6 linked regions of the Homo sapiens genome follow. The protein of the gene in region 3 purifies or fractionates together with the protein of the main gene of each other region. This does not show direct contact. Each region holds a gene or a part of one and is shown on either strand. Other genes may lie near its edges.

The links.
Region 1: the proteins of KIF15 (region 3) and PISD purify together in Homo sapiens (affinity purification with mass spectrometry, with the first as the bait; one large-scale study listed by BioGRID). This does not show direct contact.
Region 2: the proteins of KIF15 (region 3) and DCAF4 purify together in Homo sapiens (co-immunoprecipitation; one large-scale study listed by IntAct). This does not show direct contact.
Region 4: the proteins of KIF15 (region 3) and AXIN2 purify together in Homo sapiens (affinity purification with mass spectrometry, with the first as the bait; one large-scale study listed by BioGRID). This does not show direct contact.
Region 5: the proteins of KIF15 (region 3) and MPC1 purify together in Homo sapiens (affinity purification with mass spectrometry, with the first as the bait; one large-scale study listed by BioGRID). This does not show direct contact.
Region 6: the proteins of KIF15 (region 3) and DEK purify together in Homo sapiens (affinity purification with western blotting; one study listed by BioGRID). This does not show direct contact.

What each region holds. Positions count from the first base shown.
Region 1 is NC_000022.11:31,621,104-31,625,838, forward strand, and holds part of PISD (phosphatidylserine decarboxylase proenzyme, mitochondrial), read right to left. Parts: exon of another isoform or gene 4,713-4,735; coding exon of another isoform or gene 4,660-4,712; intron 2,747-4,659; coding exon of another isoform or gene 2,581-2,746; intron 783-2,580; coding exon 546-782; intron 429-545; exon of another isoform or gene 370-428; coding exon 231-369; intron 40-230; coding exon 1-39. UniProt on the Homo sapiens protein: Catalyzes the formation of phosphatidylethanolamine (PtdEtn) from phosphatidylserine (PtdSer). Plays a central role in phospholipid metabolism and in the interorganelle trafficking of phosphatidylserine.
Region 2 is NC_000014.9:72,949,583-72,954,705, forward strand, and holds part of DCAF4 (DDB1- and CUL4-associated factor 4), read left to right. Parts: intron 1-2,215; coding exon 2,216-2,295; intron 2,296-4,578; coding exon of another isoform or gene 4,579-4,581; coding exon 4,582-4,680; intron 4,681-4,803; coding exon 4,804-4,901; intron 4,902-5,123. UniProt on the Homo sapiens protein: May function as a substrate receptor for CUL4-DDB1 E3 ubiquitin-protein ligase complex.
Region 3 is NC_000003.12:44,799,170-44,804,292, forward strand, and holds part of KIF15 (kinesin-like protein KIF15), read left to right. Parts: intron 1-25; exon of another isoform or gene 26-119; coding exon of another isoform or gene 120-122; intron 123-1,144; coding exon 1,145-1,268; intron 1,269-2,280; coding exon 2,281-2,357; intron 2,358-2,595; coding exon 2,596-2,805; intron 2,806-3,644; coding exon 3,645-3,822; intron 3,823-5,123. UniProt on the Homo sapiens protein: Plus-end directed kinesin-like motor enzyme involved in mitotic spindle assembly.
Region 4 is NC_000017.11:65,555,149-65,560,271, reverse strand, and holds part of AXIN2 (axin-2), read left to right. Parts: exon of another isoform or gene 1-756; intron 757-1,535; 5' UTR 1,536-1,651; coding exon 1,652-2,466; intron 2,467-5,123. UniProt on the Homo sapiens protein: Inhibitor of the Wnt signaling pathway. Down-regulates beta-catenin. Probably facilitate the phosphorylation of beta-catenin and APC by GSK3B.
Region 5 is NC_000006.12:166,380,141-166,384,100, reverse strand, and holds the start of MPC1 (mitochondrial pyruvate carrier 1), read left to right. Parts: upstream 1-1,160; 5' UTR 1,161-1,224; coding exon 1,225-1,295; intron 1,296-3,960. UniProt on the Homo sapiens protein: Mediates the uptake of pyruvate into mitochondria.
Region 6 is NC_000006.12:18,236,377-18,241,499, reverse strand, and holds part of DEK (protein DEK), read left to right. Parts: intron 1-3,983; coding exon 3,984-4,119; intron 4,120-4,899; coding exon 4,900-5,048; intron 5,049-5,123. UniProt on the Homo sapiens protein: Involved in chromatin organization.

The sequences.
Region 1 (4,735 bases), on a different chromosome or scaffold from region 3:
GGGTGACCAGCTGGTTCTTGAAGGAGTCACACGACGCGGCTGTGGAGTAGGAGCAGACGTGGGGGCCACCAACACAGTGAGCACCCAGCACGGAGCCCGAGTGTGGTCTGCACATGGATTCTCAGGGAGGCCCCACATGCCAGCCTCAGTTCCTTCCCCAGCATTCCCCTCCCTCCCGGTCCAGCCACACAGCAGCAGGGCTGCCTAGCCCCGCCTGTGCAGTGACCCACCTGGTGGGAAGGGCAGGTCCTCTGTGCACATACGCGGGCCCAGGAACGACTCCAGGGAGTAGGTGACCCCCTTTACCTGCTCCACCTCACAGTTCTTCACCTGCCCAAAGTTGAGGATCCTTCCATCCGATGGGCTAATCTGGAAGGGCAGGAGAGGCTTGCTGCCAGGGAGAGCAGGGTCTCCTCCCCCCAGGAGACAGCCCCCACCTCCCCTTGTCATCCTGCCCCTTCCAGATACGCTGGAGACCAGGGGGGCTGTGCTGGGGAGGCAGGAAAAAGTCCTGTTTCCTGCAGGAGGAAAGGGTCAGGCCTCACCACGCTGTGCAGGCCACAGACAGGCCGGGCCTGCGGCTTCAGCTTGCGCCGGAAGAACTCGCTGAGGTTGCGGTAGTGATGCAGGTCCTCCACAGCGGCCTCTTTCATGTTCACCCCAAACGTCCAGATGTACAGGCTGTAGACGGGCCTGCGCAGCCAGTGTGGCAGCTCCACCTGATTGAGGCGACCCCAGGCCCGTGACAGCAAGCGCGTTGGCACTGACTTGTACAAAGCCACCTGCAGGCCACAGGGCAAGGGGCTGAGTTGACCACACTGCCCCAGCTCCAGAGAGCCCAAGTAGTGTCATTAGCCCAGCTCTCACTTCAGGGGAGAATCTGCACCCCACGGAGGACACCAGGGCCCAGGTGCCCCACGCTGCTTTTGTGATGTGGCTGTTTCTCACTGGGAACCAGACTGCACCTGCCACACGGAGTGCTGGATTTACATACAACTCCAGTGGATTTCATCATTTCATGCAAAAGTCAAATAGCAACTGCTCCAGTCCCAGAACGGGAGACGCCCAGCAGTCTTACTTCTTAAAGTGGGGGTCGGAAACGGATCTGATCCTAACCACAGTGTGTGACCCTAGCCACGGTGACCCCAATATCACAGTGTGTGGAGAGGTGGTGGGCATCTTGCCCGTGGTCACTGCCCATATCCCAGACCACCAAAGGAGGAGGCTCCCAAGTGCATGGAACAAGTCTACAGCCCAAAGTGTGTCCCTCTGTCTTAACAGGAAGAAGGAGGATACCCTGAGCACCAACAGGGATTTTCAGATGCAGGTCTGCGATGTCACTGTCACCTGGGCCTGAGCTGCAGACACAGGGTCTGCAGCCCCCACAGGTCCAGCCAGCACTCTTGAGGGCCTGGATGCAGCCAGTCTGAGAAGCCCAGCCCTGCTGAGCCCCACCTTGGCCCCACGGCAGGACTTGTGTTCAACGTTCTACTGTGACTGAGCCAGGCCATAAAGCCATCTGCACCTGGGGTTCCTCCCAGGAGGCAAAGAGAAGTCATCCCCTCAGGCCCCTCTGTTCTCTCTTCCTTCAGGGAAGCCTGGAGCACCTAAGACAGACGATGGCCTGGGGACAAGCACTGGGTCCCACTAGATGGTCCCAGAGCTCTCCGGCAGGGCCAGGTACCCAGGAAGGGGCAGCCTCTTAAACTTCAGGTGCTGCTGCCACTGTAGAAGCTGCCTGTAATTGGTGGCTGCTGCTTCTCTAAACACAACCAAGACACCAACTCCCCAAGGTGTAAAACTGATTTCATTCCAACTTTCAACACCTCTCCAAGGTAAGGTAAGCTCCCAGAGAGCTGCTCTTATCCCTTCCAGCTGATGCCCAGTCACACAGAAGGGCTATGTGAGCCCAGGCCCTTCCCAGGCACAGGTGGGAGCCTGGGCTAATGTCCAGGGTGCCTCAGTGCCCCTGAGCTCTGATGACACCCATGTGACTGTCAAAGGCCCAGGAACAGGGTTTCCTCCTTGGGGTCAACCTGCCTGGGAAGCCAAGGGCAAGAGCAAGCCCTCTAGGGACCAGGAGAGGACAAGCCAGTTCCCTTGCCCATTCCTGGGGCATGCCTCTGGGTTCCTTAAGGGTGTCCTCACCCTAAGGGACCCAAACAGGATCCATCCATCCTGAACCACCCCTTTGGCATCCCGGAATTAATTTGGCTTCTGTTCAAAATCACCTATAAGCTCTTTTTTGCTTGAACACAGAAAAATCAGAGACAGACACCATTTTCTGAATCCCCAGACTGGGTTCCTTCCAGAACCAGAGCCCCAAATGGCAGACATGAGGCAGGCTAGGGGAGTGGGCAGGGCACGACATGCCCTCGCAGTCACCCGCGGCCCAGGTAGTGGCCTTCTCAAAAGCTGCCTTGGCCTTGCCCACCAATGAACCTTCCGACCCGGACCCCCTGAAGATGTAGCGGTGACCTCTGCTTCTGACAGCTCGCCACCACCTCAGTCTCTCCTGCACCCCAACCTCAGGCCTGCCCGGAAGGGAGGTCCGAGCCACAGGGGCCTGTGCACACTTACCCTGCTTACGGGCCTCCATCCCACCCGGCTGAGCGGTCTGAGGGCGCCGAAGGGCAGGAGGTAGTAGAGGACGGTCAAGGGCCAGGAGCGCAGTTTCAGAGCGGGTCTGGACATGCAGCTCAGCTGCCCCAGCCTCCGCCTCAGGGCCAGCTGGGGGAAGTGCAACCTGCAGGGCACAGGTCCATGCACAGCCAGGTCAGTGGCCAGGCTCTGGGCAGGACCCAGGAGGCTGCCACCTGCACCCAGGGCAGGATTCCTCCTGTCTACCCACCCTTGGCAAGCTGCCTCTCCATGGGGGTGATGGAGCCCAGCAAGCACTGGCTGTGCCCCCTCGTCCCAACCCCATTCTGATTCAGGGGCTTGGCTGCCTCTGGCTAGCGGACTCATTTCCCAGGCTCTCCCACCCGCCAGCCAGCTGGGGAGGACTGGGAATGTGGGGGCAGCCGCAAGAGGAGAGTCAGGCCCAGCTGCGGGGCACCTCTCAGCTGCAGCAGCTCCCAGCAAGGGCCTCCAGGCCCAAGCACCTGGGCCCAGGAAGGGGAGAGCAGGGTGTAGGGCCTGCCTCACATCCCTCAGCCTCCGCAGCCCAGGAGAGTGGGCCCCAGGGGCCAGCTCTGCCACACAGGCACTGGCACGGCAGCACATAGCGCTGAGGAGCTACGACCCAGCCAGCTGGGTAACCATTTGCTGAGTCTTCCGCTACCATCCTTTGCAGGATCTGGGATATCCTTTTCATGGTTCCAGGCCCCCCCTTTCCTCATCTGCTAAATTACGGGGCCAAGGCCAGACAAGATCTCAAAGGGAGCATTTACACTCCGCCTACCACCACCACACAGCTACGGCTCCATCCATCTGCATGGTCTTTCTATAACAGGCCAGGTTCTGAAAACCCATCCACAGGTTTGTGAACAAAACCTCCCCACCACAAGCTCTCAAGCCACCTGTCTGCTCTGCTGGGGCTGCACAGACAGACACACACACACACACACACACACACCCATCCCAAGCCCCTCCTTTCAGCAAAGGTGGACACACACACACACACACACACACACACACACACACACACACACGAGACCCAAGCCCCTCCTTTCTGCATCCAGCCTCTCTGTGATCCGGCCTCTCCCCACCCTCCCAGCACAAATGCAGGGCACTCAGCAGGGGCTCAGCTTCACCAGAGCCGCAGAGGCTGGACGGGCCTTTCCACCACAACCCTGGCCTCCTGCGCCTAAACAAGGCCCACCCCACCCTGTCTGTGCCTAGGCCTAGCAAATGCTCCTGAGGCCCAGGGTAGCCAGCAGGAGACCACACTGCCATCCACTCAGAACGTCCCCAGGTCTCAGTTTCCTCATCTGCAAAGTAACTGCATTTAGCTAATCTACGGCTGCCATCTGGGACTGTGCTCTCAAGAGAAGCTGAGTCCTCTCTCCCAGTTGCTGAGCAAACCAAGGAACAAAGCAGCATCTCAGCTGATAGCAGCAGAGCAGACGGCAGGCGAACCAGTGGCGAACCCCGCTCAGGCTCAGGCTCAGAGCTGGCTGCATCCACGCAGCTCCCGGGTGCCTACTTTCTCTCCCATCGCACCCCGGTGTATTTTTAAAAGGTCCAGGAAGGTGGCAGGGGCCAAGCAAAGACAAATCACTGCTCCCCTCTGGCTTTGCCACCTGCCCCACTCACTGCAGAAGAGCAGGGACCAACTGGGAAGAGCTACACCCCTCCCATGGGCAGGAAGGGGAATGGGGAAGCCTCTCTCCTAGGTGGGGTGCAGAGGCAAGGGTCTGGGCTGCGAGCAGGGGGCCTGGGAGCACCAGGGTAGGGAAGATCGCAGGCATGAGGTCTGAGGCTCGCTGGCAGCCTCCCCCTGCTGGGCCCTCCTCATGGTTGGAACCAAAGATACCTGAAGCGGGCTCTCCGACTCAGGGTGCTCAGGCCCCCCAGGCCAGGCTCCTCCAGCCTCGGGGGCTGACCACCAGTCCCCTTGCCGCCACCTCTACTGCGAGGCCGCTGGATGTGAACTCTGACCTTCCGGAGGTCGTGGCGGGGAACCGTGGGGTTAGGGCGCGGTGGGCAGCATCTCACCATTTCGCCGCGCGGAGCTCTGGTCCTTGCCGCGCCTCTGACTGACACATCATGGGCCGGCGCAGGGAGGGCGGGG
Region 2 (5,123 bases), on a different chromosome or scaffold from region 3:
CATCTCTACTAAAAATACAAAAATTAGCCAGGTGTGGTGGCACGCACCCGTAATCCCAGCTATTCGGGAAGTTGAGGCAGGTGAATTGCTTGAAAACCCGGGAGACAGAGGTTGCAGTGAGCCAAGATTGCGCCACTGCACTCCAGCCTGAGCGAAAGAGCAAGACTCCATCTCAAAAAATGTATATAAAAATAAAATGTTTAAGAAGATTTTTAAAAGTTACATGATTGCTTTTCAGATATTTACATTTTCCAGTGAGGAATATGTGTGGTCATTCAGACAACACCTATCGAGTATATGCAGTTGCAAGGAGATAGAGACAGGCAGCTCCACAAGTCCTCAGTGTAGGAGGAAAGCTGCATGCAGGAGGGATTGCAGCCACCTTCCTGGAGGGAGACCCATGAGGGCAGGAAGAGGCCAGGGACCCCTAATAGGAGGAGTTGGGAGAAAGCTTGGTATGTTTGGCAGCAGTTTGATATTCATGATGTCTCTGGCTAGGGAGCAGGGCCTTTCAAGACTGAATGCTCGCTCAGGGCTGTGGGAGGTCCCAGGGGGTTGTGATTGTGGAGTCATTTTTGAAAATGATTCCTTTGGTGGCATTGTTGGGGGATAGACGGACGAGAGCAAGTCCTCAGACAGAAGCTGCTGCAAGACTAAGGGCGGTGGTGAGGGCGTGAAACGAGGTATCAGGAGTGGAGGGAAGGGCACCAAGAGGCAGGTGCAGGCTCTAGCCCGGGCATCTTGTGATAGGAGAAGGCCAGGATAGACCTCCCAGAGAGTGGTGGGTTGAGGCCAAGGAGTGTGTAGTAGAAATTGGGCTACATGGCCATAGGGCAGAACTGGAATGTTTCCATCAGATTTAGAAACCAGAGGCTCATTGAAGACTGATGAGAACATTTCTCTGGGAAGGTGAGGGTCAGGCCTGGATTTCAGTGGAGGAAAGGCAAGGGAATGAGAATAAATACAGGCTCCTCTGGAACAAAGTTTGGCTATGAGGGGAAAAGGAGAGGAACCGCGTCAGTCAAAAGACACACACGTAGGCAAGGGTATAAAGGGGCAGGTCAGAGAGGGAACTCCAACGACTATGCTCATGTGAACAGAGACACCCACATGTAGTCAGGGAAATGCAAATTTAAATAACAGTGAGGTATCACCTGGTACCCATTCAGATAAGCAGAAATTTTAAGGGCTGGTAGTGAGATATTCCATGCAATGCCATTTCTGTATGTTTTTTTTTAAACAAAAGCTGCTTTGTGTTATTTATTGACAAATATATGTAGTGGAAATACAGCATGGCTTAGAAGAACTTACACCAATTTGAGAAGAGCAGTTCTCTCTGAGTAGAGGAGAAGGGAGAATTGGACTAGGGAGGGATCAGAGAGGGCTTTTTGGGCTTTTTAATAGTATTTTATTTTTGAGACATGGTCTTACTCTGTCACCCAGGCTGGAGTGCGGTCACATGATCACAGCTCACCGCAGCCTTGACTTCCAAGGCTCAAGCAATCCTCCCACCTCAGCCTCCCAAGGAGCTGGTACTACAGGCACACACCACCACGCCCAGCTAGTTTTTGTATTTTTTGTAGAGACAAGGTTTTGCTGTGTTTCCCAGGCTGGTCTCGAACTCCTGGACTCGAGTGATCCTCCTGCCTCAGCTTCCCAAAGTGCTGGGATTACATAGGCAGGAGCCACCACACCCAGCTTTTAACTATATCTGATTTGTTTTTCCCTTTAAAAAACATCTGAAGCTGGCCAGTCACGATGGCTCACCCCTATAATCCCAGCACTTTGGGAGGCCGAGGCGGGCGGATCACGTGAGGTCGGGTGTTCGAGACGAGTCTGACCAACTTGGAGAAACCCCGTCTCTACTAAAAATACAAAATTACCCGGGCGTGGTGGCACATGCCTGTAATCCCAGCTACTCAGGAAGCCGAGGCAGGAGAATCGCTTGAACCTGGGAGGCAGAGGTTGCGGTAAGCCGAGATCGCGCCATTGCACCCCAGCCTGGGCAACAAGAGCGAAACTCCGTCTCAAAAACAAACAAACAAAAAAAAAACATCTGAAGGTAAATGTGGGCAGTGTAAACGCATGTTGAATCTGGACGGTGGGGGTTACTCTGGCCTAGGTTGTGTGCCGTATGACTTTCTGAAGGGTAAATGTCCATGCCTCCTCCCAGAGGGGAGCCTTGTGCCTAACTGTCCTTAACAGCTTTTTCCAGGCTATGCCTCATGGGACTCGCAGAGACTCCAGGCTGTGCCACCCTGCTCCCAGCATCACTGTTCGTCAATAGTCACCCAGGTACAGGGTTCTCCTCCTTTAAAGAAATCTGTCCTCTGTCTCCCGAGAGCTGTGTGGGGGTGGCTTAGAGAGAAGTATGGGGCCGCTGCAGAGGCACTGTGGGAGGATTCCCTAAGCCTGTCCCAGGGTTAGTACCAGAAGCATGTGTTTTTTTTACAGCATCTGCCCCTTTTTACCCATCTTGGGCCATTTCAGTCATTTCAGCAGCCAGAGCAGACTTAACACGCATGTAAACCAGCGTGAGCTCAGAACAGATTCGGACGCCCGTGCACATCATTCAGAAAACACCTCTGAAGGTCCAAAGCACCTCAGGTGCTATCAGGGATACTTAACAGTCTGCCTACGTTAAGGCAATTTGACTCCTCCTTCCTGACAGCATTCTGGATATTACATTTCAGTCTATCAGAAAATTAGGATCAATAAGACCAGGGTGAGAGGCCTCTTAAGAGTGTGGGCTTCAGGCAGACCTGGCACGAATCCCAGCTCTGCCCCTTGCCAACTTGAATGGAATGTTGAACCTCTCTAAAGTGGACAGGGCCTTCTCAGTCCACATCCGTGGAGAATTAGGTGAGATCATGCACATTTAGCCCAGTGCCTGGTATTTCATTGCACAGCAAGCTTATGAGGCAGGAGTGTGTCTTACCACCATTTTACAGATAAGGAAACTGAGGCAGACAGTTTCAGAATTTGTCTTACAAAAGTAATTTTTAGTGTTGGAGGTCAGGCTCACAGTACCCTTTGGGGAGGTAGTAATTGGGAAAGGGATGTGAGGGAGGCCTCTGGGGTACTGGATTGTTTTATGTCTTGTCTTGTCTTTTTTTTTTTTTTTTTTTTGAGACGGAGTTTTGCTCTTATTGCCCAGGCTGGAGTGCAATGGCACGATCTCAGCTCACCACAACCTCCGCCTCCCAGGTTCAAGCAATGCTCCTGCCTCAGCCTCCCAAGTAGCTGAGATCACAGGCGCACACCACCACGCCCGGCTAATTTTTGTATTTTTAGTAGAGACGGGATTTCACCATGTTGGTTAGGCTGGTCTCGAACTCCTGACCTCGTGATCCACCTGCCTCGGCCTCCCAAAGTGCTGGGATTACAGGTGTGAGCCACAATGCCCGGCCTTTTTTTTTTTTTTTTTTTTTTTTTGAGATGGAGTTTCACTCTTGTTGCCCAGGCTGGAGTGCAATGACACGATCTCAGTTCACCGCAACCTCCGCCTCTGGGGCTCAAGCGATTCTCCTGCCTCAGCCTCCCAAGTAGCCAGGATTACAGGCATGTACCACCACACCCGGCTGATTTTTGTATTTTTAGTAGAGATGGGATTCTCCATGTTGGTCAGGCTGGTCTCGAACTCCCGACCTCAGGTGATCCACCCGCTTCGGCCTCCTAAAGTGCTGGGATTACAGGCGTGAGCCACCACGCCTGGCATGGATTGTTTTATTTCTTAACCTGGGTGGTGGGTACATGGCTATATTTAGTTTGTGATAACTCACTGAACTGTATCCTTACAATCTGTACGTTCTATCAATGCAAAAGTTTATTTTAAAAAATATTTTTTCGAAGCACAGTGGCTCATGCCTGTAATCTCAACACTTTGGGAGGCCAAGGCAGGATAATCGTTTGAGCCCAGGAGTTCAAGACCAGCCTGAGCAACATAGCAAGACTCCAATCTCTACAAAAAATAAATAATTAGCCATGTGTGGTGGCTCACACCTGTGATCCCAGCTACTTGGGAGGCTGAGATGGGAGGATTCCTTGAGCCTGGGAGGTTGAGGATGCATTGAGCCATGATCACGCCACTGCACTCCAGACTGGGCAAAAGAACAAGACCCTGTCTTAAAAAAAAAAAAAAAAAAAAAAAATATATATATATATATATATATATATATATAGTTTATTTATTTATTTATTTGTGTGTGTGTGTGTGTGTGTGTGTGTGTGTGTGTGTGTGTGTGTGTATATACACACACACTTGCCTGAGATCACATAGCTGGTAGGTGATCGAGGATCGGAGCCACCTTACCTCCAACAGTATACTACCTCCCTGATATCAGTACTATTCGTACTGTAAACACGACTACTGGGAACGTTAACAAAGATGCATTTTCGGAATAACCACTTGTGAGCCAGGCATCCCAGCTGAGTCTCTCTTGCAACCACAAAACCCAGAATGGGGCCAAAGGTATAGACCCTCTGAGCAGCTATGGGCATATTTGGATGTTTTCCGAACCCAGTGGTCCCTGGCCTGCCTAGAAGGCAGCCACACTTTACATTCTCCTATCCCCTTAGCAGGAATAGACCGGCCTGGCATGCTCTGCAGTTTCCGGATCCCTGGTGCCTGGTCCTGTGCCTGGTCCCTGAATATCCAAGCAAATAACTGCTTCAGTACAGGTGAGCCTGGCTCCCCAGGTGCCCAGAGAAGAGGCCTTAACAGGCCTTAAAACCCCATGTAGTTGTCCCTCTCCCCAGACTACATGTGACATAATCTTACCAGCCCATCTCTGTCTCCGCCAGGCTTGTCTCGGCGGGTCCTGTTGACCAACGTGGTGACGGGACACCGGCAGTCCTTTGGGACCAACAGTGATGTCTTGGCCCAGCAGTTTGCTCTCATGGTTGGTTGGATTGGGACAGGCAGAATATAAAAGTTTGCCCCATGTAGAAATTTGGCCAGATTGAAATTGGACTCCTCTGTGTGCCATCTAGTACTCTTTGACAGGGGAGAAAGAGCATCAGAAAGGATCAGTGGGTTCCTTTGTAAGGGTGTCTGAGCCGAGTGAAAGTTGGTTGATCCAGAAAGGCTGGCCTGAGTTGCTCTACACAACCTCTCATGGAAA
Region 3 (5,123 bases):
GATGTCAGAAGTGCAGTAGTACCTTGTAATGAGGCTGGCCATAAGAATCAGAAGCAACTGGAAATGGCTGCTTAACACACAAAAGAACAAAACCAAGAGCCTTCTACTAGTCACTCTCAATGGTAAGCCCTTTGCAGCCTATCAGTGGAAAGTGCCAGAGTATCTGGGACTTGTTTAAGGATGTGCTATTTAAATTTTTCCGTGAGCAAATTGGGCTTACAGCGAGAATACAGAAGACCTTGGGGCTGTCACAGGGTGTTTTTTCCTTGCTGGAGTACTGAGTATTTCACAACTGAGTCCTCTGACCTGGTTGGTACTCAGCTGTTGGCACTCGTTATCACCCTTTAGGCTTTGTGGACCTTTTTAAAGCTTTATTTTTTTAATTAATCAACTTTTTTTTTTTTTTTGAGATAGAGTCTCGCTCTGTCAACAGGCTGGAGTGCAGTGGCGCACATGTGTGACCTGCCCCACTCTTGACATCCTGCCCCACAGTGGCACATTTTGTTTGTGAGTCCTTTAGCCTTTTAGAAGTTGTCCTAAATAAGACATTTCTTTAAGAAAATGAAGATAATCATTTAGTGTGGTAAAAAATTAAAAAAAAAAAAAAAAAGGAAGTGTCAAACCAACCCCTCCTTCCAAGAGGGCTGTTAAAAAATAAAGGTCGGATTCCTCTGGAGAAGGTTGCTTCTGCCAAGCTCAAGCCCACCCTGCAAGTCATCATGCACTTAGAGGCTAGGCTCCTTCCCCGTAGGGAGCTAGGAAAGAAGGGAAATGATACTCACTGAGGTATTGGCTCTTCTCCATTGGGAGGGTGGGGGAAGGCTGTCGTTCTCAGGGAAAGAAGTATTAGGTGAACACACCCGGATCCTAAGGGTGACCCAGCCTAAAAGCTCAGGGCTAGTCAGCTGGGGGGCAGAGAGCCTGGCTGGGGCTGTCTCTCTCTGGCTCCAGGTCTGAAGGCACAAGAAAAGGAAGCTTCCTCCCCACTTGAGCACACTGTGATTCCTGTGTCCTTTTGACTATGATGTGGTCTTGAAGTTTTGTTTGATGTTCATCACTACAAATCATACCAAACAAATGTAAACACAGGACTATACTACTCAAAAAGCATTATTTTAATGCTTTTTAAAAAATTCCTGAACAGGCAGTAGTAAATGAAGACACCCAAGGAAATGTGAGCCAGCTCCAAGCTGAAGTGAAGAGGCTCAAAGAACAACTGGCGGAGCTTGCTTCAGGACAGACACCACCAGAAAGCTTCCTGACCAGAGGTAGGATGAGCACACAGTCCTTTATCTTGGGGAAGACTGTACAAATAATAGTTTAAGAGCCCTTGGTGATAGACACAACACAATAAGGCAACCCAAATTTTTCTGCAGGTATCTCTTTCTGCTTATTTCTCCTATATAGGAACATAGTGGTTTGTTTATAATCAGATACAGATACCATAGGCAGTGAGAAGGGGGAATTAAAATAATTTTGAATAATGTATAAGTGCTAAAAAGAGATTAATTTCATTTAGATCTACTTCTACGTAGCATATGTAATCTATATATGTTTACTATAGGATAAGAGAGACTTATTTTTCTTCAAAGAATAGCTAGTAGAGAATTAATTAACTGGAAATCCATAAAGGCAAGAGGGTGAATTATTAACAGATCTTAAGAGGTGCACAGCACCCTGGGACTCCTCTAATTTTTTAAAAAATCTACTTCTACTTCTGTTACACCATGTGTAATCTATTGTGCATATTAACTAAATAAAGAGAAACTTATTCTTTGAAGAACGACTAATATGTGGAATGGTTAATTTGAAATCCGTGATCTAGTGATGACGGTCTCATTGTTTTTTTTTTTTTTGAGACGCAGTCTCTCTTTGTCACCCAGGCTGGAGTGAAGCAGTGTGATCTCAGCTCACTGCAACCTCTACCTCCTGGGTTCAAGCGATTCTCCTGCCTCAGCCTCCTGAGTAGCTGTGACTACAGACCCACGCCACCATGCCCAGCTAATTTTTTTGTATTTTTAGTAGAGATCGGGGGCGGCGGGAGGGGGGGGTCTCACCATGTTGGCCAGGCTGGTCTCGAACTGCTGACCTCAAGAAAGATATCCGTCTGCTTCAGCCTCCTAAAGTGCTGGGATTACAGGCATGAGCCACTGTGCCCGGCCACAGTCTCATTCTTTTAGATTAGTTGAGAGCAATCAATTAAAGGCTATCTGTTCTCTTGGTTTTGCAATGTGATAAATATTTTTTTTCATCTTCCCTTTCTTATTGGATCAATTACAGACAAAAAGAAGACTAACTATATGGAGTATTTCCAGGAAGCAATGTTATTCTTTAAGAAATCTGAACAGGAAAAGAAGGTAGGAAATGGAATTAGTAATAAAGGAGATTCAAGATAGTTAGTTTTTTGCTGTGTGGTTTTTATTGCCTTACTAAGTGAAATAAATAATACCAAGTCAATAAAGTAATGGAAGGCTATGAAAAATCAAATTTTGCCTTTAAGATTAAATATGAAATTAGTATTTGTTGCTGGACTTACGAAAATTTAGGGAAGTCAAATTATTTTTCATGTTTAACCAAATTATGAATTTCTTTAAGTCTCTGATAGAAAAAGTTACCCAATTAGAAGACCTCACCCTCAAAAAGGAAAAATTTATTCAATCTAATAAAATGATTGTGAAATTCCGAGAGGATCAAATAATACGCTTGGAAAAGCTCCACAAGGAATCCCGGGGAGGTTTTCTGCCTGAGGAGCAGGATCGTTTGCTCTCAGAATTAAGGAATGAGATTCAAACTCTGCGAGAACAAGTGAGTATACGGCATCTATAATATTTCTAAAAATAAAAGAAGTTCAAAGCAAATCTAAGTTTGTCAGCAAGTACTTGTTCTTTAATACAATGGAAATTGTTTTAAGTGAATTCTTCTGACAGTGTGATTGCATAATTCCTTTACCTGTCTTTTTAAAATAGTTAAAGGGAAGAGAAGGGGAGAAGGAAGAAGTTGTGGTGACATTGCTACATAGTATGCTACTCTAGCAGGCCACGCAGAATTTCACCCAGTGGGCAGTTGTGGTTATCTGAGTCAGTAGGCTCTTTAGGGTTGTGCCTTTTAACGTTTTTGTTGTTTTTCCTTTTCCTTAGGGAGAATGGATAGGTCATACAGGTACATTGTGGGAAAACCCAAAATCTCTTATCAGCTTCTTGTTTATCTCTCTGGAGTTTTTAATGAATATTCAAACTAATATGGGTGGATATTTGTACTTTTGTTTCTCCTGTACACTTTTTTGCACTTCGCCTTTTTCAGTTAATCTTGGTTGACAAGATTAATTTGGTCCTTGTTCTTTTCAGTGTGTTGATTTAACTAGTCTCCTTTGCATGAAAAGCCTGCCACAATGTACACCCTTGTGCTTACCTCCTTAGGTGGGTGAACATTTCAAGGGTCTAGACTCCAACTGAGAATAGGAGAGTTACAGGACATGCATATTTTCAAACTGATCACAAATGCCAAGTTGCTTTCCATGGTGGTTGCAGAAGGGTACCACCAGTAGTGCATGTGCATACCTAGTTTTCTAATGGCTTTTTAGAGGAACTAATTCACTAAGGAAATGTTTGTAAATATATAATGCGTGTAATTCTTCTATGTCACAGATAGAGCACCACCCCAGAGTTGCAAAGTATGCTATGGAAAATCATTCCCTCAGGGAGGAGAATAGAAGACTGAGATTATTAGAGCCTGTGAAAAGAGCTCAAGAAATGGATGCCCAGACCATTGCAAAACTAGAAAAAGCTTTCTCTGAAATAAGTGGCATGGAGAAAAGTGACAAAAGTAAGAAATGATTGTTGTATATACGTGCCATGTAGGAAGGGGCTGTTTTAAAGAGCATTTTTAGTGCCTTGTGACTAGGGTCTTCATTTTAGCCTCCAGGCCTGCTATGCTAATGTCTTATACACATATTCTTTTATATTATAGAAAGGTATTTACTAAACTTTTCTTTTTCTCAAAAATCACAGAGCATAAACTACGTAAGCTAATAGATATAACGAGAAAATACTCATTGTATTTGTTTTATTGATAAAAAGATTGATTCAGATACTATGTTAAATTTTTACTAAATTTTCCTGTTTAAAGTATTTGAAATGAAAAGTCTTTAACTAATCAAACGTGAATAAAAATAGAGTTGAAATGTTTATCAATCTAATTAGTCCTGTGCAGTATAAGAGATATAGAAAGGTCAGACTCATAGCACAGTGTTTGGGTCCTGATGTTGTGTTTGGGTCCTGGTATTGTGGTTACCAATGTATGCAGTCTCTAGTTACATACTACTTTCATAAGTTTGCATACTATGTGAAAAGTGGTTTAGTTAATACTAAATCTGCCTTACAGTCTTGACAGCTGTTGGTGTTCATACCCTGGGATTTGGTAACAAAGTCTGTGTTTGCCCCAGTCTTAGAGTTAATATTTTCACGGTCTTTTATCATAGACTTGGCCTTGGTTTCCTTTTAGGTTGAAATTGAAAAAGTTCTAATGTTTTTATTCTGCATTCATAAAGAAGACTGTCTCTTTGCTTTTTAAAATTTCATTTTTTAAGCCTTCTTCCATTCTGTTATGACTGAATAGAATAATAAGAGTCACAGTAACTGGGTTGGGGAGAGACTTAAGATATTAGATGCAAAATTACTATCAGGTTTTCTGTTGTTTTTTTTGAGATGGAGTCTCACTCTGTCACCCAGGCTGTAGTGCAGTGGTGCGATCTCGGCTCACTGCAACCTCCACCTCCTGGATTCAAGCAATTCTCCTGCCTCAGGCTCCCTCCTGGGATTACAGTCACACACCACCACACCGAGCCAATTTTTGTATTTTTGGTAGAGATGGGGTTTCACCATGTTGGCCAGGCTGGTCTTGAACTTCTGGCTTCAAATGATCCACCCACTTCGGCCTCCCAAAGTGCTGGGATTACAGATGTGAGCCCCAACGCCTGACTTAGGTTTTCTGTTTTATTTAAACTACTTTTCCCTACAGTGCCCTTTATTTTGTTGGCCATTTTGTTGTGGCCTCCATAATACCTTGACTTACTCCCTTCAGAAGATACTAATGTCTGGATCTCATCAGTTTCTAAACATTGATCA
Region 4 (5,123 bases), on a different chromosome or scaffold from region 3:
GCGTCCCTCCTCCCGGCCCGGGCCCCTCGCCCGTGGCCGCCCCGGCCCCTTTTGCGGAGAGGCAGAGACTCCGCGCGTCGCCATTTCTGGACTAGGCTGCTGCTTTCTGTGCTTTTTCTGCGGGCGCCTCTGCAAACGGCGGCGCCGGGGACCGACCCCCCGCCCGGGCTCGGGGCGCTGCTGGCGTGTCCCGGGGTTCCGGCCTCGAGGTGTGCCCGCCAGGGCTCTGGAGGCGTTCAGTTGCATTTGGGCCGGGGGACCGGGCCGGAGGGGCTCGGAGGACATGAGAGCCTGGCTTCGGCGGCCTTCGTCTTCCAGGTAACGGGGCCGCTCCACCTCCCACCGCCCGGGTAGCGCGGTGCCAACGGCAGCCCCACTTCTCCGTGGGCCGCGCCGCCCAGCCCCGCGGCTCGAGGCTCTGGTCGGGTTCAGCGTGCACCCATCCCAGATCCGGGGTCCCTGGCTTCTCGCCCGGGGTTGCACCCCGTTCAGCCCCTACCCTTCTTAGTTTGATCTTTTCCGTGCTAGGGAAAGCAGCTTGTTTATTGGTTAGATAAGACTTTTTTCTTTGGAAAAAAGACAGGCTTGAAATCAGTAGAGTTTGGGATTCTTGGCACAGGCAGTAGTGGCGTGAGACGGCTGGTGATCCAGTTTTGTAGGTTTCGCGGATCCGGGAGGTGGGTTGGGGGCACGGGGGCGACGGTTCCGAGGCTTCTCAGCTCTCTCTCAAAGTTTGAAGATGAAAGTCTCCCCTGAGTGAGTTGGTTTCTGGTTTGGGGGGAGGTCAGGGAAGACAGAGGTGTTGACTGAGCTGGATTCTTGGTGGGGGTAGGGGGCGCGTAGCGAACACTCAAATCTGAGTTGGGGAGGGGGTGTTTGCGTGCTGAATCTGGGAGTCCGGGAGCCCAATCCGCCTATGCTGGGCGGGCTTCTCTTGGGCCAGGATCTTCTGAATTTTTAAGGAGTGGGAAGAGGGAGCGCAGAGGGAGGGGGTGGGTGGGGAGAATGGGAACCAGATGCCGGGGAAGGGCACGTTTGGAGCTCGAGTTATCTGTGCAGGGCCGAGTGGGGAAATATACCGAAATTGGTTTCACCTGCACACAGCCTAGCGGCTGGGAGTGCGCCTTTTTGGAGTTGATGGTATCGGGGGAGGGGAAGGGAGGGAAGGCGAGGCGCGGGCTGAGCTGCCCTGCGTGCGCCCTGGCCGAGTGGGTTTTTGGAAGGTTGTGTCTTACACCTCCAGTGTCCCCCTGCCGTCCCCAGCTCTTGCCTTCCTCTCACCTTCCCCGCCTCTTTCCCAACAGCTCCCTCCCACCCCCAACCCCGAAAAGTGTGCAGGGAGCTCAGATTTCGCTTTTGAAAAGCAGCGCCTGATACTTTAGATGAGCACCTCGCAGATAGCTGGGTTGCTTGATTTGAATTTGAGGAGTTGAAAAGCCTGTTTACTTTCTTGCTTTGATGTTGGGTAGATCTGGTTTTGATTAGATCAATACCCTTTTCTCTCTCCCCACCTCCCCCCTTCCTTTTCTTTCCAGAGAGGAGGTTCAGATGAGCCCCTGCTGACTTGAGAGAGACAGAGAGACCACGCCGATTGCTGAGAGGAACTGGAAGAAGAAAAATTCCCAGACTCAGTGGGAAGAGCTCCCTCACCATGAGTAGCGCTATGTTGGTGACTTGCCTCCCGGACCCCAGCAGCAGCTTCCGTGAGGATGCCCCGCGGCCCCCAGTGCCAGGGGAAGAAGGGGAGACCCCACCGTGTCAGCCAGGGGTGGGCAAGGGCCAGGTCACCAAACCCATGCCTGTCTCTTCCAACACCAGGCGGAACGAAGATGGGTTGGGGGAGCCGGAGGGGCGGGCATCTCCGGATTCCCCTCTGACCCGGTGGACCAAGTCCTTACACTCCTTATTGGGCGATCAAGACGGTGCTTACCTGTTCCGAACTTTCCTGGAGAGGGAGAAATGCGTGGATACCTTAGACTTCTGGTTTGCCTGCAATGGATTCAGGCAGATGAACCTGAAGGATACCAAAACTTTACGAGTAGCCAAAGCGATCTACAAAAGGTACATTGAGAACAACAGCATTGTCTCCAAGCAGCTGAAGCCTGCCACCAAGACCTACATAAGAGATGGCATCAAGAAGCAGCAGATTGATTCCATCATGTTTGACCAGGCGCAGACCGAGATCCAGTCGGTGATGGAGGAAAATGCCTACCAGATGTTTTTGACTTCTGATATATACCTCGAATATGTGAGGAGTGGGGGAGAAAACACAGCTTACATGAGTAATGGGGGACTCGGGAGCCTAAAGGTCGTGTGTGGCTATCTCCCCACCTTGAATGAAGAAGAGGAGTGGACTTGTGCCGACTTCAAGTGCAAACTTTCGCCAACCGTGGTTGGCTTGTCCAGCAAAACTCTGAGGGCCACGGCGAGTGTGAGGTCCACGGAAACTGTTGACAGTGGATACAGGTAAGACTTTGACGGGGGCGGGTGGGCTGATGCTGTGGACTTTGCAGATGTTTTAAGTATGGTGGATGGGTGGATGGGTGTGCTGCAGAGACTGACAGGTCTGTTGAGTTAGGACTGCTGGCCATGAACCCTTTTTGATCTTGCTTTTTGTTGTTGAAACAGGGGGAAAGCGATGCACATACAGTAAATACCTGCAGTCTTCCAGTGCTGACTTCAAACAGTGGCAAGCAGTATTCACTAATGTGGGTTACTTATTATCCCGGGCTAGTGTCTCAGAAGAGGTTGAGAGAGAGAGAGAGGACAGCAGCTTTTGATGCCTCTGAGTCACCAGATCCACTAAGCGCCGGTTTTGGAAGGGGTCACTTCACCACTAATCAGTAGAGGGTGGAATTAATGTGGCTAGGGAGGCAGCTGGGTTGTGGTGGAGGCACAGGAAATAATATGTGCACCCATTGAGGGGTAAGTGGGATTTTTTTTTGAACTTTTCTGTTAAGATAAGAGCCAGCAATTGGCTTAACTGAGCTTGTGGTTCCCTTTGTAGAATTAGATATTTACCCAGCAAGAAAGGCCTCTAACTAGGGAAGGTCCTGTGACTTTCCCAAATGAAGGACCCTTACCTTTAGAGCTTGCTGGCATATTAATCCAGGTTTTAAATGCTCATGAGTCCGAGGGTCAGACTTCAGTTGATTATTTTGTTAGTGCTGATGGAGAAGAGATCTTGGCCCGGGAGTACTGGGGCCCTGGAGTACTTTCTCTTTGAGGCTTCAAAGACAAATAGTTCTTTGCAGAATGGCCAAGTCTTAAGATTCTTGACCTTTGGAGGCAACTTCAGACCTCTTGTTAGAATGAGTTTTTCTGTTTTCTCCCCTCCTCCCGACTTCCAAATATCCGAAAAGAGAATGAGCCTCTTAATTCCGGGGTGTGGTTTTATGACAGGCAGGGGATGGGGCTGCACTTGACTGCTCTCTGAATGATTTATCTTGCTCTCTGTGTGAATTTCTCTGTGTGTTAGGGGCCCAGGATGCGGTCTGATAGCTGCCTCTGGATTTCCCTTTCTCTGTAGGATGTGGTCTCTAGTGCCCAGCAGCAGGAAGAGAGGTGGGCACCAGATGGTTGATCTTGAGCCTCTCAGGGTGGCCAGGTCTGAGCCTAGCGGGCCATGATTTTAGGGGCGGCAGAGAGAGTTGACTGTTGGCGAGGAGAGGAAGGGCTTGTTCTCCAACCACCAGGGGGCGCGCTTGTGGCTTGGGAACCAGTTTTACTCAGACATCTGGTCTACACCTAAGTGGAACCAGGTTGACTTTTGCAAGGAAACACAGGTTCCAGGGAGGTGTTTCAGTGTCTTTATGCTTGTGGAGTCAAGTTGTCTGGGAGGAAGATCCTGGGTCTGGCCTCTGCAGTAGGTCAGTCGCCGGGCACCTGCTACGCCTGCCCGCCCCATTATGAGACCATTTGGGTAAGCCTCTGGCGCTGGCCTCCTTGCCCTCTAGCCTGGCAGCCAGAGCTGAGACTACTTAAGAGCCGTGGTAAAGGCTGCTTCTCCAGGGGCCTCCTGACTGGGGCTTCTGTGTCTCCCACTGCCGGGACCAGAGTGTCACCTTCGTAAATAGCACAGTGTGTGGTTTTGGACGCCCTCCCCAGGCAGGGCTCTGCTGTGAACCCTCCCCTTTGTGGGTGGGCAGTTGCGACTCAGCCTGGGCTTGCCTCATCTGGGATATTACCAGGATGCAACTCATGAAGCTTTTGAGATCCAGAAGGCAGGGACAGAAGCTCCTGTTTTCCAGGGCTGCCTTCTTGGCTGTGAACCGTGGACATCACTGATAAAGAGGTGACAGCTTGTCATTGACCTGAGAGTTTCCATACGAGATTCACGTGTGCCTTCTCCCACTGTTGGGTTGAGATGAAGCATCTTAAAGGACTCTCTGAAGCTCATATGTCTTAACTGGGCATATTTAAAGAGAATTTAAGACATAGCCAGATGATCTCACATCATTTTAACGTGCAAGATATTCGAGTGTGTGCACAGTGTATGGAAAGGTCTGCTGACTCCTTATTCAAAGGCTTGCATTCCAGCCCGGTCCACCACTTACTGCTTGGGTGTTGAAGCCTTTCTGAATGGCATGTGCCCATCTGTAAAATGGGTGGGCACCATTCCTTCTGTCTGTGTCATAGGATTGTTATTAGGACCAAAATAATAAACATGAAAGCCTTTTGTAGAGAGAAACGTTTTGAACCGCCGCAAAGTGTTATAATTAGTATAATTAGTAATGATGATGTAAATAGGACAACCAGGTTGGGATGTCACTTTTAAAGGGTGACTCTTGGCTTAGCCCATTTTCCATTGTAAGGTTTTAGAGTGGCCCCCTGACCCCCATGCCTCAACTTTCTTATTGAACTGAAGTCTGTTTTTCCAGCTAGTTCTTGGAATGTAGAGATCCCATCTAAGGTTTAAGTTCCCCCCTTCCCTCTCCCGCACACTCACTCATTCTGCAGAGTACCTGGCATCTGGGATGGGCTTAATAAGTTAGTAAAATGAATGGAACAGAAACGTCAGTGCTGCTGAGGATGGTCTTTCTTCATCAGCTGCTGAGGAGCGGTCTTGGCAGCCGGATGCCTGGGGCACTGGCCAGGCTTGCAAGCCCTGTGTTTACCTCGGG
Region 5 (3,960 bases), on a different chromosome or scaffold from region 3:
TCCCAAGTAGCTGGGACTACAAGCACATGCCACCACGCCCAGCTAATTTTTTTATTTTTAGTAGAGAGGGGGTTTAACCGTATTGCCCAGGCTGGTCTCGAATTCCTGACCTCAGGTGATCCGCCCGCCTCGGCCTCCCAAAGTGCTGTGATTACAGGCGTCAGTCACCGCGCCCGGCCACCAGAGGCATTTTAAATGATCGTCCACATTAGAAACAAAACGAAACGAAACAACTTGGAAAAGTGAGCAAAAGCCTTCAATGTGTTCTTTTCTCTGCCTTTGTGATCCGAAAGTCGTGCTGCGGTTTATATACTCCTAGGCGAGGGTCGCGTGCTAATGATCCCTTTCTTTTCAATATGCACCCGCGGTGGGACTTACAGAACCTTTATTTTCAACACGTAAGCAGTCACGCTTCCTCGAGCCTAAGGCTTTGTGCTATTCTTAAATGCTTTCCTCCTCCGACGCTGCGGCTCCCTCCTGAGCCCGTAGCTGCAGCGCGTTGGTGAGGAGCGCCGGCCCTGGGTGCCGCCCGCCACCCTGGAGGGACCGGTCCGGGGGAAAGTGCTCGGGAGAAGCCAGGGGCCCCGGCTGCGGTCGCTGGCCCGGGGCTCTGCGCACTCCCCAGTGCCCGGAAACCGCAGGCTGGCCCAGCTTGCGGGCCGGGTCCGCCCACGTGGGTGTGGGAAGCGCAGGGGACGCGGGCCGCCCGGCCAAGGTGCCCTTGCCAGGAACCGGCGCAGACACAGGCCCTGGGCGGCGCGGGAACCCGGCCAGTCCCACCGCGCGCTGCGCCGCAGGGGCCCCACTGCAGGTCGCCCCAAGACCGCGCGACGCTCGGCAGGGCGCCCACAGTCCTGTGGGTCAGAGAAATGTCACCTCCACGTCCCCGCTGGCCGGGAGCCGCTGGAGCCTAGCAACCGCCTGCCAGCCCCGGCCCAGCCCCAGCCGTTTTACGGCAGCGGGCCCCGCCCCCGTGCGCCACCGAGGGCGGGAAGGAGGCGTGCGGCACGAGCCAGCCAGTCCGCGCCACCATCTCTGGCCCTGCGCCCTGTCATTGGCCGAGAGCCGGGCGGCGCGGCGCGGCCGTAAGGCGTGGCCGGGTGTCGTGAGGCGGGCCTTCGGGCTGGCTCGCCGTCGGCTGCCGGGGGGTTGGCCGGGGTGTCATTGGCTCTGGGAAGCGGCAGCAGAGGCAGGGACCACTCGGGGTCTGGTGTCGGCACAGCCATGGCGGGCGCGTTGGTGCGGAAAGCGGCGGACTATGTCCGAAGCAAGGATTTCCGGGACTACCTCATGAGGTGACGAGCGCCGCAGGCCGAACCCCGCAACCCGGAGGGGCTCCCGGGAGGCTGCGACCCGTGCAGTCCGCGACGAGGGCGGCCGCGAGGACGCGGTGGCCCCGGGCAGCGGGTGGGCCGGGGCCCAGGCGAGAGGGTGCGCTTGTCAGGGGGGCCCCACCCGGATCCCTCCCGGACCGCCACACCCCGAAGCGGACGGCGTAGAGAGCCGGTGACAGTGGGCGCCTTTCAGGGCGGGGGTGACAGTGGGCGCCCCTCAGGGCGGGGGTGACAGTGGGTGTCCTCTCCCGGCAGGGTGACAGTGGGCGCTCCTCAGGGCGGGGGTGACAGTGGGTGTCCTCTCCCGGCAGGGTGACAGTGGGCGCCCCTCAAGGCAGGGGTGACATTGAGTCCCCTTCAGGGAGTGGGTGACGGTGGGCGTCCCTCCTGGCCAAGGTGACACTGGGGACGCCTCTCCTGGTAGGCATAACAGTGGACGCCCTTCCCGGCCAGAGTGGCAGTGGGGACCTGGAGGGACGAAAGCGACGGCGCTCCTCAGGACAGGGTGACCATGGGGACGCCTCTCCCGGCAGGGGTGACAGTGGGCGCCCCTCAGGGCAGGGTGACCCGGCAGGGGTGACAGAGGCTCGTTCCTCTCCCATGGTTGGCAGTGGGCACGTCCCTCCGGGCCAGTTGACAGTGGCTCGCTCCTCCGGGCGGGAGTGGTTTCCTGGCCGGTTTCTACCAGATCCTCGGAGTGGGTCGCCGGTCACCTGCGGCCGTCCAGGTGTGCCAGAGGCGGCGACCTGGGTGTGGGGTGGGGAGACGCCAGCGGGAGGCGCTGCTGAGAGCGCGGCGCGGCGCTGTTGGAGCGGAGCTTCGGGTGCGCCCAGCGCGCTTCTGGGACAGCGGAAATAAAATGTGCTGGCCTTGGGTTCGCCTTTCGGTTTTCTCATTCTAAGGACTTTAAGCTTGGGAGGAAGTACAATTTAAGATGTTTTTATATACGAAATTCTGTCAACCAAAGTAAAGTGACGTGTCTCTAAGGTCATACTTTTTCTTCTTGTTCTATTTTCTGTTAACTCCTCCTTTCCAGTTAGAAACAAAGAGCATTCGCGGTTGGAAAGCCTGAAAATACACTTTCTATAATTTATTTGCACCTCTCATCTTGGGGCGCTTGCTTTTATTTCAAAATATTGAATATAACTTTGAAGCAGTTTTAGGTTATTTAGGAGTGTAATTTTAGTTAGTTTTTCAGTGTATGATTTTAAAACCTAGGTACGTGTACAGCTGCGGTTTTTTTTCGGTAGTTAATAGTGTGGTCAAGAGGTAAAGAGATGAAAGCTGAGGAGGAATAAATCCTGTTATAACCACACAAAAGGGATAGTATGAAGGCAACTTGATTTTAGCAATAAAAAAGTTTTAAATCCTGAATTTTATTGCAAATACTGTTTACTTCTACTTTTATAGAGCAGTAGGGTAGGAAAAATAATTCAGTCTGCCATATGGTAAACTTGTAAACAGAAGCTTCACTTCTGACTTTCAAAAAAAGACATTTCTATGCTTAAATAGAACTACTATTAATTAAGATGGGTGTTTAGCACTGTGGAGCACAGCAATGTATCAGATTAATGGTAGTAAAAATGTGAACAAGGTAGCAGTCTGAGGGTATGCTCTCAATCCTTGCTGTTAAGTTTCTCTACAGCTTTGAATATTACTTTAGCTTTTTACTAATGTGTTGGATACTGAGCCTTCCTAATAGGTACAGCTAAGGATAACATTGTGTGGTAAAATTAAAAATACAGTTATGACACCTAGCTATATAAAAATTATGCTGATAATTACTTAACCGTTTTCTTTTCTTTTTTTTTTTTTTTTTTTTTTTTTGAGACAGAGTTTGTCTCTTGTTGCCCAGGCTGGAGTGCACTGGCACTATTTTGGCTCATCCAAACCTCCGCCTCCTGGGTTCAAGTGATTTTCCTACCTTAGCTTCCCAAGTAGCTGGGATTACAAGCATGCACCACCACGCCAGGCTAATTTTGTATTTTTAATAGAGACGGGGTTTCTCCATGTTGGTCAGGCTGGTCTCGAACTCCCGACTTCAGGTGATCCGCCCACCTCGGCCTCCCAAAGTGCTGGGGTTAGCAGGTGTGAGCCACCATGCCCGGCCCTAACAGTTTCATTACATAGGAAGAATTTGTTAAATATATTTTCAAGGAAGAGAGTTCTGCTTTTCTAAGTGTTATATTTTCTTCTACTAAATGGGTTTCCAAGAGCCAGGCTTTTCAATAGGATACTTCAGTATATCATCTAACCTTTTTTTCTAAAATTAACTTTATGTAGCTTTAAATTTTTATACTTTCTCCAGTATTTAATTCAATTACACTTTGACTAAATAAGGAAAAGAAGAGAATTGCATTACTCGGAACAGTGTTGCCTGGTAGAGCACCACACTAAGATTCAGAAGAATGACTTACAGTCCAGGATCCCCAGCAAGTTGATCCCAGCAGACTTTATTTGTCCATCAAATGGGTTTAATGATAATGCTCTTTTTGGGTTATCAAGAAAATTAAATTGGATAAGGGATGTGAAAATACTTGGAAACTCCAAATCACTCTACATTTTATTATATCCTTCTGTTTTTGCAAGCGAAAACATTTTTTAAAGTTTACAGTTATTTAGAAAG
Region 6 (5,123 bases), on a different chromosome or scaffold from region 3:
AGTACTTTGAGAGTATGGATTAATCAAATTGATGGTATTGTGAAAGATTTAGAGGAGGTAATTGTTAAGCTAGGTTTAGAATCATGAGTGGGGTTTTCCTAAGTACAGGGGAGGAATGAAAGTAATGAAGATTTGAAAGTTCATGTAAAATTAAAGGGGACATTGTTTAACTTGCCTTGTCAGCTCTCCCTGTGTTTTTTTCTGTTACCTCCAAATTCTGGTTACCCATATTTACCTTGACAGACAAAAATTGTCCATTGTGTCCTAATACCAAGGTATGTCCTTTGAGATGCCCCCATTTTCCAGAGACCTATTCCTCCTATACCTAATAACCTTCAGGGCAGCCGAAGTGATGAAAACCTGCAGGACTAAAGCACAAGATACAAATTCATTAGTAGTTTTACTGTTCAGCTTTCATGATTTCTTAACTCAGCATTAATCTAAAAAAGAGACTTTACCAAATTCCTACCTTAACTTTGTCACAGAAGAATTTACAGCTGGTTGCTAAAGATAAATGAAATTCTGTATAAATGACATGACGTATTACTATAGATGTTTGCGGGCCATGTCGTATCTACTATAATGTAGTGAAGTAAGTGCGATATATCATGGCTAGTTAATACAGTTGTTATTGAGTTTGTCTCACTGTGTTTATAATTTCCAGTCTGTGTATCTGCCCTGCTTTTAAAAAAAAGAAAATTAGTTTTTTAGAGATAGGGTCTTCTGATTTTGCCCAGGCTGGTCTTGAACCTCTGGCCTCAAGTGATCCTCCCATCTCAGCCTCCTAAAGTGTTGGGATTACAGGATTGAGCCACTGCACCCTGCTTTTTGAAAACACTTAGAAAGTTTAAGTTATTGGAGGAAATTATATTTGCATAATCAAAGAATTTCTCATTCTGCAAAAGGAAGCACTCAGTAATAATAGTTAATATTTAGTGTTTACTATTTGCCAGGTACTACCAAAAATACTTTTCATCTGTTAATGTATCTACTCCCCATAAAACCATAGGAACTATTGTTTCTTTTGTTTTGTAAATGAGACAAGGGCCCAGAGATGTACTGGGGCTGGAATTTGAAACCAGGCAGCTTGCTGCTAGAGCCTGTACTCTTTGAACTATTATGTCGTATATTTTTCTTTAGTGCTTGTGCAGTATATTTGCAGTCTTTTAGAAATTTTAATAGATGACAGGCCTGGTTGTCCGTTTAGAAAAACTGTAGAACATTATCCTTTACAGCAGATATGAAATGTAGAAAGATGTGGTTTTGTTATACAGAAGTAAGATTTTATGGAGATGGCTTGTTATTTATTATTATAAATGTTTATGCTTTGACAAACTGTCACTACTCACAATTTGCAGGTTTTAAAATGATGTCATGTTGTGTATCACATCTAAAATTTTAATGGCAAGCCTTAAAAGGCTTTGGAAGTATTTTAGTTATCTAATTCTGATTTTCTAATTTGAATGGAGATTGAGTAATTATTGATGATATTGTTTCTTTTGCTCAACCTTCAACCCTTTCAGTAATAACTTACTTTCTTGTACCTGCAAGTCCAGATTTTATTACCGTTTAACTAAAAAATGATATATAATCATGATTATTGTATTCTGTGTATTAAGTGTGCTAAAGAACTTAAGAATTTTTAGGATTCCCTTTCAGAGCCTAATATATAGTTCACATGAACTGGGTGGACACTTAATGAACCTTAAAACTTAGTTTAAGTTCGTCATAAAAAAACGACAAATCATTGATACTTGTCCCATAGCCCCACACCATCTAGAACATCTCTTAGGATTAGGAAGTAAGTTAAAATGGCCTGTAAATCGCAAAAGTCCATGGGAAATTCATGTACTTACTTTTAGAAGCATGTCAGCCCCTTGACACCTTAAAAATGTATTTTTTAGTAGCAGTTAAACTACATGCTTCCCAGCCAGTGGTATATTGTTGAGGTAGTGCAGGGTGATGATAGGCTTGTATAAATAGGTACAGTGATGGTATATTAGCAAAAAGAAAGACAAACACTAAAATCCAGCCAGGTGAGGTGGTGTGTGCCTGTAGTCCCAACTACTCAGGAGCCTGAGGTGGGAGGATTGTTTGAGTCTAGCATGGGTAACATAGCGAGACCATCTCTTTTTTTTAAAAAAAAAAAAAAAAAAAAAAAGACACTAAAATCCAATGAATAGCTTGAGGCCACTTTTGGAACAGATTGATGTGTATACTTTAATCTAAAGGATAGGTTCAACACAGTGCTTATGTCTTTAAAAACAGGTTGACTTGGCCGGGCACAGTGGCTCACGGCTGTAATCCCAGCACTTTGAGAGACCAAAGTGAGTGGATCACCTGAGGTCGGGAGTTCCTGACCAGCCTGGCCAACATGGAGAAACCCCGTCTCTACTAAAAATACAAAAGTAGCCGGGTGTGGTGGCGCATGCCTGTAATCCCAGCTACTCAAGAGGCTGAGGCAGGAGAATCACTTGAACCCGGGAGGCAGAGGTTGCGGTGAGCCGAGATCATGCCATTGCACTCCTGCTCCTGCCTGGGCAACAAGAGCGAGACTCCATCTCAAAAAAAAAAACCAGGTTGCTTTAGGATAACTCTCAGGAATCAAGAGTGTTAAACATTTGGAGAAACGTTCTGTCAAGTGATCGCAGTAGTTTTAGTGTGTAAATGGGAGAATTTAAAATATCTTGGAATGTTTAATAGGAAGCTTTTCCTTTGGGAACATTAATTAAACTAAGAATTAATGCTTTCTAATTTCACAGGCTCCACATGAGACAAAGTATGAACTCTGATTTTGTCTTTTTTTTTTTTTTTTTGAGACAGTCTCTCTCCTGGAGTGCAGTGTCATGATCTCCACTCACTGCAACCTCCATCTCCAGGGTTCAAGCAATTCTCTTGCCTCAGCCTCCTGAGTAGCTGAGACTACAGGTGCCCACCACCACACCCAGCTAATTTTTGTATTTTTAGGAGAGACAGTGTTTCACCATGTTGACCAGGATGGTCTCAGTCTCTTGATCTCATGATCCGCCCGCCTTGACCTCCCAAAGTGCTGGAATTACAGGCATGAGCCACCATGCCTGGCCTGTCATTTTAATCTATCCATATTTATGTATTTTGTTTGTGTCTAATCACCTATGGGTTAGTGTTTAAGAACACAAGTTCTGGAGTCACATCTATATTTGAATCTTGCATGTTTATTAATGTGACTGTGGACAAGGTAACCACACTGAGCCTTAGTTTCCTCATATAGTCATAAGTATTTATTGAGCAACTACTGTATACCAGAGACTATTTTAGGAGTTAGGGAAACATCAGTGAACACAAGATTCTAGGCCAGGTGTGGTGGCTCATGCCTGTAATCCCAGCACTTTGGGAGGCCAAGGCAGGCAGATCATCTGAGGTCAGGAGTTCAAGACCAGCCTGGCCAACATGGCAAAACCTCATCTCTACTAAAAATACAAAAATTAGCCGGGTGTGGTGGCGAGCACCTGTAATCCCAGCTACTAGGGAGGCAGAGACAGGAGAATTCGCTTGAACCCGGGAGGGCAGAGGTTGCAGTGAACCAAGATCGGGCCACTGCACTCCAGCCAGGGTGACGCAGCAAGACTCTGTCTCAAAAAAAAAAAAAAAAAAAAAAAAGATTCCAGTTGAAAGAGAGAGAACATAAATAAGAGAAGATAATATTATCTATATTTAGGGGTCCCCCCCAAGATTAAGTAGAGTAATGCATATGTAGTTTATCCATAGTGTTGAATAAATATGGGCAACTCTTGTGTGTGTGTGATTGTGATTTGTCATGCTTAGACTTGTGTTGGGATAAAATTGTTGTATATTAGTCATCTCTCAAAAAGAATTTTTAATTGCTGATACCAAATATATTGGTTTTCTCTAATATTATTAAGGGGCATAGGGGAAGTAGAGGGATGGGATGGGATAGCATTGAATCTCATCAATATGTGTACTTTTACTTTCTTTTGTAACAGCCACCAAAAAAGACAGCCAAAAGAGAAAAACCTAAACAGAAAGCTACTTCTAAAAGTAAAAAATCTGTGAAAAGTGCCAATGTTAAGAAAGCAGATAGCAGCACCACCAAGAAGAATCAAAACAGTTCCAAAAAAGGTATGTTAGAAATAACATTAATCAGCAACTTTAAAGATATAGCATATATTAATATGTTGTACATAGTATTTAAGTGTGTGGGAGAAACAGGTAAACTGCAGAGAACATTGCGGGGAGAAGTAATACAGGTTGAATATCCCTTATCTGAAATGCTTGGGACAGGAAGTGATTCAGATTTTGCAATATATATATATAGAGAGAGAGACAGAGAGAGAGATATCTTGGGGATGGGACCCAGTCTAAACATGAAATTCATTCATGTTTCATATTCATCTTAAATAGCCTGAAGGTAGTTTAATATTTTAACTAAATAAATTATTTATTGCAGTGGTGCCGTTACAGCTCACTGTAGCCTTGAACTGCTGGACTCAAGCGAGTCTCCTATCTTGGCCCCCCAGAGCACTGGGTTTACAGGCTTGGACCACTGCCCTTGGCCTGAAACCAAGTTTTGACTGCGACCCGTCACACGAGGTCGGGTATGGAATTACCTCCTGGTGGTGTCATGTTGGTGCTCTGAAAAGCTGGATTTTGGAACATTTCAGGTTTTGGATTTTTGGATTAGGGATGCCTAACCTGTATACCAGTTTTTTATAGTTTTTGATTTTTCAAATTGACTAAAATTTGTATGCATGTTTTATAGGTAACTGTAGAGTAGTGATTTATAATTTTTTTGATCCAGTACCCCTTTGAGAATCTGTTGAAAGCTTAAAATTCATCTCAGCCTTTGTTAAATGTTAATTTACTATGTAAGAAAAATTATTATTATTATATTACTTTTAGAAAGTGAGTCTGAGGATAGTTCAGATGATGAACCTTTAATTAAAAAGTTGAAGAAACCCCCTACAGATGAAGAGTTAAAGGAAACAATAAAGAAATTACTGGCCAGTGCTAACTTGGAAGAAGTCACAATGAAACAGATTTGCAAAAAGGTAATTAGACAAATGTTTAGATTATTTTGCTTTTGCTAGAAAAATTCTTTCACTTATCTCTGAATTTGAAGCTAA